Linked DNA regions of Homo sapiens: region 2 is linked to region 1. Evidence: fine-mapped QTL for protein levels in blood plasma. Region 1 holds a variant in brackets. A gene starts in the other region. All regions are shown on their forward strands.

Region 1 (2,909 bases):
AACAAGTTCATCGAGGCGGGCCAATTTAATGATAACCTCTATGGGACCAGCATCCAGTCAGTGCGGGCAGTTGCAGAGAGGGTAAGTGTACAGGAGATGGCCTCAAAGGGGAGGCCAATGCTTATGCCAAGGTTCCACTTGGATCCTTATCCTTCCAACACAGGAGCTGCCCAACAGTGCTGCTGACCAAAGCCATAGCACATCTGCATACTCCCAGCGCCTTGACGAAGCTATCTGTCTCCTTCATACAACTCACCCCAGAGCATTACCCAACAGGGAATAGGGGGCCCTGGACAGATGTGGCCTTTTCTGGGTAATAGGAGCAAAAAGTAGGGCCTGTCTACTTCAGAGATCGAATTTCTTAGGCCACTTTGGGTGGCCCTCGTGCCCCTCCCCTCACCCCCACCCCCGGCCAAGGTGGATGTTTAGAATGTCACTGGATTTCTGCTTGGGACTTGGTGAATAGGGAGTGGCTGGGCTGTTACAATCTCTGCTTTTTCAGGGCAAGCACTGCATCTTAGATGTTTCCGGCAATGCTATCAAGAGACTGCAGCAAGCACAACTTTACCCCATTGCCATTTTCATCAAGCCCAAGTCCATTGAAGCCCTTATGTAAGTGTTGAACTGAGAACTCAGACACACCAAGCTAAGATCGGGTCTGGAAGGGAAATGGAGAAGAAAGTGATTTGCTGGGCAGAAACTTGAAAGAAACTCTGTGCCCCAGCTCTGGTCACTGGGCGCTCCTGTTTTGAGGGCTTGTGCATATGTTCATGGTTGGACTTTTGAACGCAGGTTTGAGGAGTTAGCTACGGGCCACTGCTGCTCTGAGAGGGCAGCTTAGCAGATTTTTAGGGATCCTGGAATAATCCTTTATGGTTAATCAGAACATAAGATCTGGTTCAGAACTATTTTTCTTCTGTCTTTGGCAGGGAAATGAACCGAAGGCAGACATATGAACAAGCAAATAAGATCTATGACAAAGCCATGAAACTGGAGCAGGAATTTGGAGAGTACTTTACAGGTAAGACTCCTGCTGCCCTGCGGGGGGTTCTGGGGAACTAGCCAGGTACCTGTTTCTATAAGTGTCTCAAAGAGGTGTAGACAGAATGTAGAAACCTTGCACGGAGTTTCCAGTTGCTTTTAAGTTTTTGAGCACAAACCTTTCCAAAGCACACAAGTTCCCCGTGTCCAGCCATAGCAGTTCAGCCAGTTTATAGCATAAACCACTCACCAAATGCTTCCTTGAATTGTTGGTTTGTTCATTTTGTCTTGTCCTTACTAGATTGTAGGCTCCCTGTATTACTCTGTCTCCCTCCGTTTCAGCTCCACTCCCCCTCCCCCAGTACTTTGCTTTGCATGTTTAGGTGCTGAATAAACGTTTGTTGATGATGATGATTCCTCGGTGTGCTGTTCAAGTTGTCTGTTGGGGTGTCTGTCTGTCTGTCTGT[G/C]TGTGTGTGTGTGTGTGTGTGTGTGTAAGGTCAGTTCCTGAAACATTGGGAAGGTTTCTATGTAATACGTTCTTCACCTTTTGAAGTACAGTGACATATATATACATAAATATATGCAAGGCAGTGCCGAATCCATTCTAGCTGGTGGTGACACTAGGTTAACTGTGTAAAGAATTCATAAATGTCCTCACACACCTTGGGTCTTCAGAGCTCCCTTTACCATCAGCATCCATGTCCTTGTTTGCTGGGCTGACCTCTGACATACAGCAGATGTGATGGGCCCAGGAGCGCTGCCTCTTGCCAGAAATTGTGGCTTTCAGTTCTTTCTGTGGAGAACTGCGATTTTCCAAATCTTTTAGTAAGGCTGCTTTAGAATAACAAGCTGCTGGCCTTATGGCACCCAAGAACAACATGAACTGCAAGGTCTGGCACATAGTGGGTGCTCAATAAACATCTTTTGAATAAACACATTTTTCTGGTCATTACTACTTAGTCTCACTGTCTCAGTGAGTTGACTTCAAGCCCTGGACTTGGGGTACCTTGTTGGTTGCCCTTACTGCCCTGAACACACAGGCAGCCAGCCAGTGAACCCAAGCCCAAACCCATACTCCTGGGAACATGTCCTTCATGTGAGGGGTGAGGGGGTGGAGGGGGGACTTGTAGGATTGTTGGGAGAGGCAGGATTGCTGGGTTTGGGGGATGTGCTATGGACCACAGTAATAATTTTGTTTTCCTCTTCACTTTAGCCATTGTACAGGGTGACTCACTGGAAGAGATTTATAACAAAATCAAACAAATCATTGAGGACCAGTCTGGGCACTACATTTGGGTCCCATCCCCTGAAAAACTCTGAAGAATCCCCTCCAACCATTCTCTTGTGAACAGAAGAAATCAAGTCCCTCTTCCCTCCTCCCTCTTCATTCCTGTCCCCATGGGGAGAACAAATGCTACTGTTCTTGTCCCCTTTTTTAGATATGTCAAAAAAAATTAAGTTTTCTAGTCCTGTTCTTTTTTTTTTTTTAAGTTTTTGTTTGTTTCAGTTTATTTTTTGGGATGATGCCATCTCATTCATCATGTGACTGTGCCCATTCCTGCATGGACCTTTCCCAAGCGCTAGCACAGGTGCAAAATCCATCAGAGCCATTGTTTTCATAAAAACCAAGCAGAAGTGAAGAGAAAAGAGGAGGACTGATGGAAAGACAGACTCTGGACAGCTGCACGGCTTGTGAAGTGAGCTAAATGCACCACATGATGAGATGCTCCTGGGCATTTCTCCCTATCTGTACTGCTGTCTTGCAGCTCTGAACGGTGCAACGTAATGGCGACAGAAAGTATCTTATTTATATATAGATATATATATGTAATTTATATAAAATATATAGAAATTATTATATATATATATTATACACTCTCATATAATATATATATATTCACACACATTTGGGTTAGAAAATCTATGGA
Region 2 (2,909 bases), not on the chromosome of region 1:
AAAAGTTTTAAAAATCACTGGATTGGGTGATTTTTTCATCTATTTTCTGATTGAGAAGTTTCATGGCTTTTATAGGAGAAGCAAGGTGACAGCAGCCACCCCAAGCTTGAATTATAGAGGTAGCAGGAAGGACATTGTAGGCCAAGAGCCCTGTACAAACAGGCACATGTTGTGGTTATGGAGTGGAGAAATCAGGTGTGTGCATGTTATGTGACCCTGCTTCATAGAATCATGGATGTGCATCACAATGGCCTCAGAGGTCACTGAGGGTGGCCAGATGTCTGGGTGGAAGGGTCTCATCCTGTTTTCCAGCTCCATTCCAGGCAGCATCCTCACGATCCAAAGAACGGCATAAGGGGCCCCTGTTTCCTGAGACCCAGTCAGAGCTCCTATACTCTCCCACCTTGTTCCTCTGAGCTGACAAATGACATCGGAGAGGGCAAGTCAAACTGTGCACATACCCACCAACTTTAGCTGTATTTTAACAACCTTCGGTTTCCCCCCAGTTTCTGAAAAGGAGAGTAGGTAAAATGGAAGAGTGATAAATAGTTTTGGTTATCTCTAAAGGCAGCTTATTCTAAGAAATCAGCTGAGAAAAGGGGGCCTAGGATGGACCCCACACTGTCGTGTTTCCCCCCAGCCCATACCCAAGCAATGCTGCACTCACTGGGCACAGGTGACGCTGGAAGCAGGCTGGGCCCAAACCTCAGGAGGCCAATAGAAAAATGCCCTTGAGGGGCTCAAGACACTGCTCCTAATCTCCCTGAGGAAATATACCCCAAATGGGGTGGGCCACTCTTTTGCTTAGCGGCAAAGAGAGAGAAATTGAGGGAGTAGAGAGGCAGGCTGGTCTCACTCCATGTCCTTGAGGGCAAGGGGGGACTGGTCCTGGGGGGCAATGATAAGAGATCAAGGCCATGTGAGGCCTGGAGATTCAGGATCTGTTTATTTGGAGACTAGAGGGCATTTGGGGTAGTGGAATGAAGCCTGGAGTCTCCCAAGTCAAGTCTCATTGGTCAAGGCTGGAAGATCCCAACTTAAACTCTTAAGCAGAACCTACAGTCCTAAGTCTCATCTCCATCCTGCTCACCACACCATGGGGTGAAGTGCTGTGGTGCTCAGTAGATAATTCATTTATATAATGTTGCTATACACACAATTTCAAGAAGATACCAGCCCTCCTTTCTGAGTCCCTGCTCCTGGTCTTCCCCTGAGCCCCAACCTCACTCCTGCTTATTTCCCTGCAGGCTCTAGGTTGGAAGGAAGACAAGGCATTGCACTCACGTGAGGAGGATTCAGTCTTGGTCCCTAGGGCGATGGTGATGAGGAGGAAGAAGGGAATGGCAGCCACGGAGATCTTCATGCTGTGGGAAGCTGTTGTGGGAGGAGAGCTGGCCTGGTGGGAGCTTCAGAGGCTCCTGCGGTGAGGAATTGTTGAGAAATGATCATTGAGGCCAAATATTTTTTAAAATAAGGGAGCTGAGACTTGGAAGGGAAGTAGGAAAGCAGTGATGCCTCAGCAATTTCATATCCTGCACATGTGTTGTTGGTGGCCTGAAGGAAGCAGGGAGAGCCAAGGTTTAAGGGAGGAAATGGTCTTCCATCCCCAGTGGGAAGAAGTTCAACTCTTTTGATAGAAGCCTTTCCCTAGGCATGAACATGAGCACAGGGCTGGGGGCACTGTGTCACACTTAGCAAAAGATCTCAAGGCTGGATGTGTCCTGTATCCAATTCCATCTCAGGCCTTAGAACAGGCCACGTGGGGCCTGGACATTCAGGATCTGTTCATCTAGAGACTAGAGGGTGTTTGGGGTAATGGAATGAGGCCAGGACTCCTCCAAGTCAGGTCTCATTGGTCAAGGGAAATCCTAACTTAAACTCGAAGCAGAACCTGCAGTTCTCTGTCTCATCTCCATTCTGGTCACCACACCATGGAGTGAAGAAGTGCTGTGGTGCTCAGTAGATAATTCACTTATATAATGGTTGCTATACACACAAGCCACTGTCCCAGTTGCCTTATGAATATTAGCCTATTTAATCTTTAGAACAGCAGTTGAGGAAACAGGCTCAGAATCAAAGCCTAAGCTTTTGACAGTTGGTAAATGGAACTGGGGTTCAAATTCAGGTGGTTTGGCTTCCAAGTCTGTGTTCTCACCCATTATGCCATAAAGAAACATGGGACTCCCAACGGAGCTCTGTAAAAGCTTATGGGTTTTCTATAAAGCCTTTAGTCTTAGTCCTTTCTGAAATCAGATAGTGGATCTCTTTGGGACCTTCTCCTGGTTTCTCTGACTTTTGCTGCAAAGAAGCTTGGTGGGAACCCTAGAAAATGTCTAATTCAGGGATAGCTAGTAGGTTTCATTGATTAGTGGTGGACTGGAGCTCTGTGTTGGAAATGATTCTGAGGCCATATCCAGGCACATTGGGAAGATACGCTGTGACCAACGTGCAGTTTCTGTTGCAGTGCAGCTTGCATGCTATGTATCTGCCATTTGATTTGTCTAAACTGGCCATTTACTGAATGGAAGCTGGGAATCAGAAAGGACCAGTGACTTTCTCATGTGCACACAGTGATTTGGATGCAGGACAGATCTCATCTCCGCAGGCTCTCAGCTTAGTGCCCTCACCATGCTGTTCTTGGAGGTACATCCCCCATTCTGCTTGCTGATGTGGTTAGATGGTTATTTAATCTCCTCTCCTCATCTGAATCATCAGGATGGAGAACATCTATTATTTATCTTTGCCCATTCACGCAGAACCTAGTGTATACCAGGTGCTTTATGAATATACATTTTAAAAGAAGGATGAATAAACAAATTGAGCCAGGTCTACATATGTGTATCTTATAGGAAATGGCTGAAATCTCATGGTTAGTTGTGGAGACAGTCATCAATTAAAAATTTTCTATA

Alleles and levels. Alleles are on the strand shown, and positions count from the first base shown. The strength of an association depends on the size of the effect and on how common the allele is.
As copies of G replace C in region 1, the plasma level of the protein whose gene starts at base 1,443 in region 2 goes down (weak association).

What was found. A credible set is the group of variants that fine-mapping cannot tell apart. PIP is the chance, under the fine-mapping model, that this variant and not a neighbour inherited with it causes the effect. The UK Biobank Pharma Proteomics Project read protein levels with antibody pairs (Olink). The fine-mapping took linkage between variants from a reference panel, not from the people measured, so its PIPs are less certain.
Region 2: CCL14 starts here. The variant in region 1 is the best candidate, but not a certain one, in a credible set for the plasma level of the CCL14 protein (UK Biobank, PIP 0.52).

What each region holds. Positions count from the first base shown.
Region 1 is chrX:70,499,969-70,502,877 of GRCh38, forward strand. It overlaps DLG3 (discs large MAGUK scaffold protein 3), which reads left to right. Exons shown (of 19, transcript NM_021120.4): 16 at 1-81; 17 at 503-612; 18 at 930-1,021; 19 at 2,195-2,909. The coding sequence ends at 2,301. Among named protein-coding and RNA genes, the nearest start is that of DLG3-AS1, 45 kb to the left of the region's middle. The variant G/C (reference allele first, on the strand shown) is at 1,449.
Region 2 is chr17:35,985,287-35,988,195 of GRCh38, forward strand. CCL14 (C-C motif chemokine ligand 14) reads right to left here and starts at 1,443. Exons shown (of 3, transcript NM_032963.4): 1 at 1,285-1,443. The coding sequence starts at 1,363. It overlaps CCL15-CCL14 (CCL15-CCL14 readthrough (NMD candidate)), which reads right to left. Exons shown (of 7, transcript NR_027922.3): 5 at 1,285-1,418.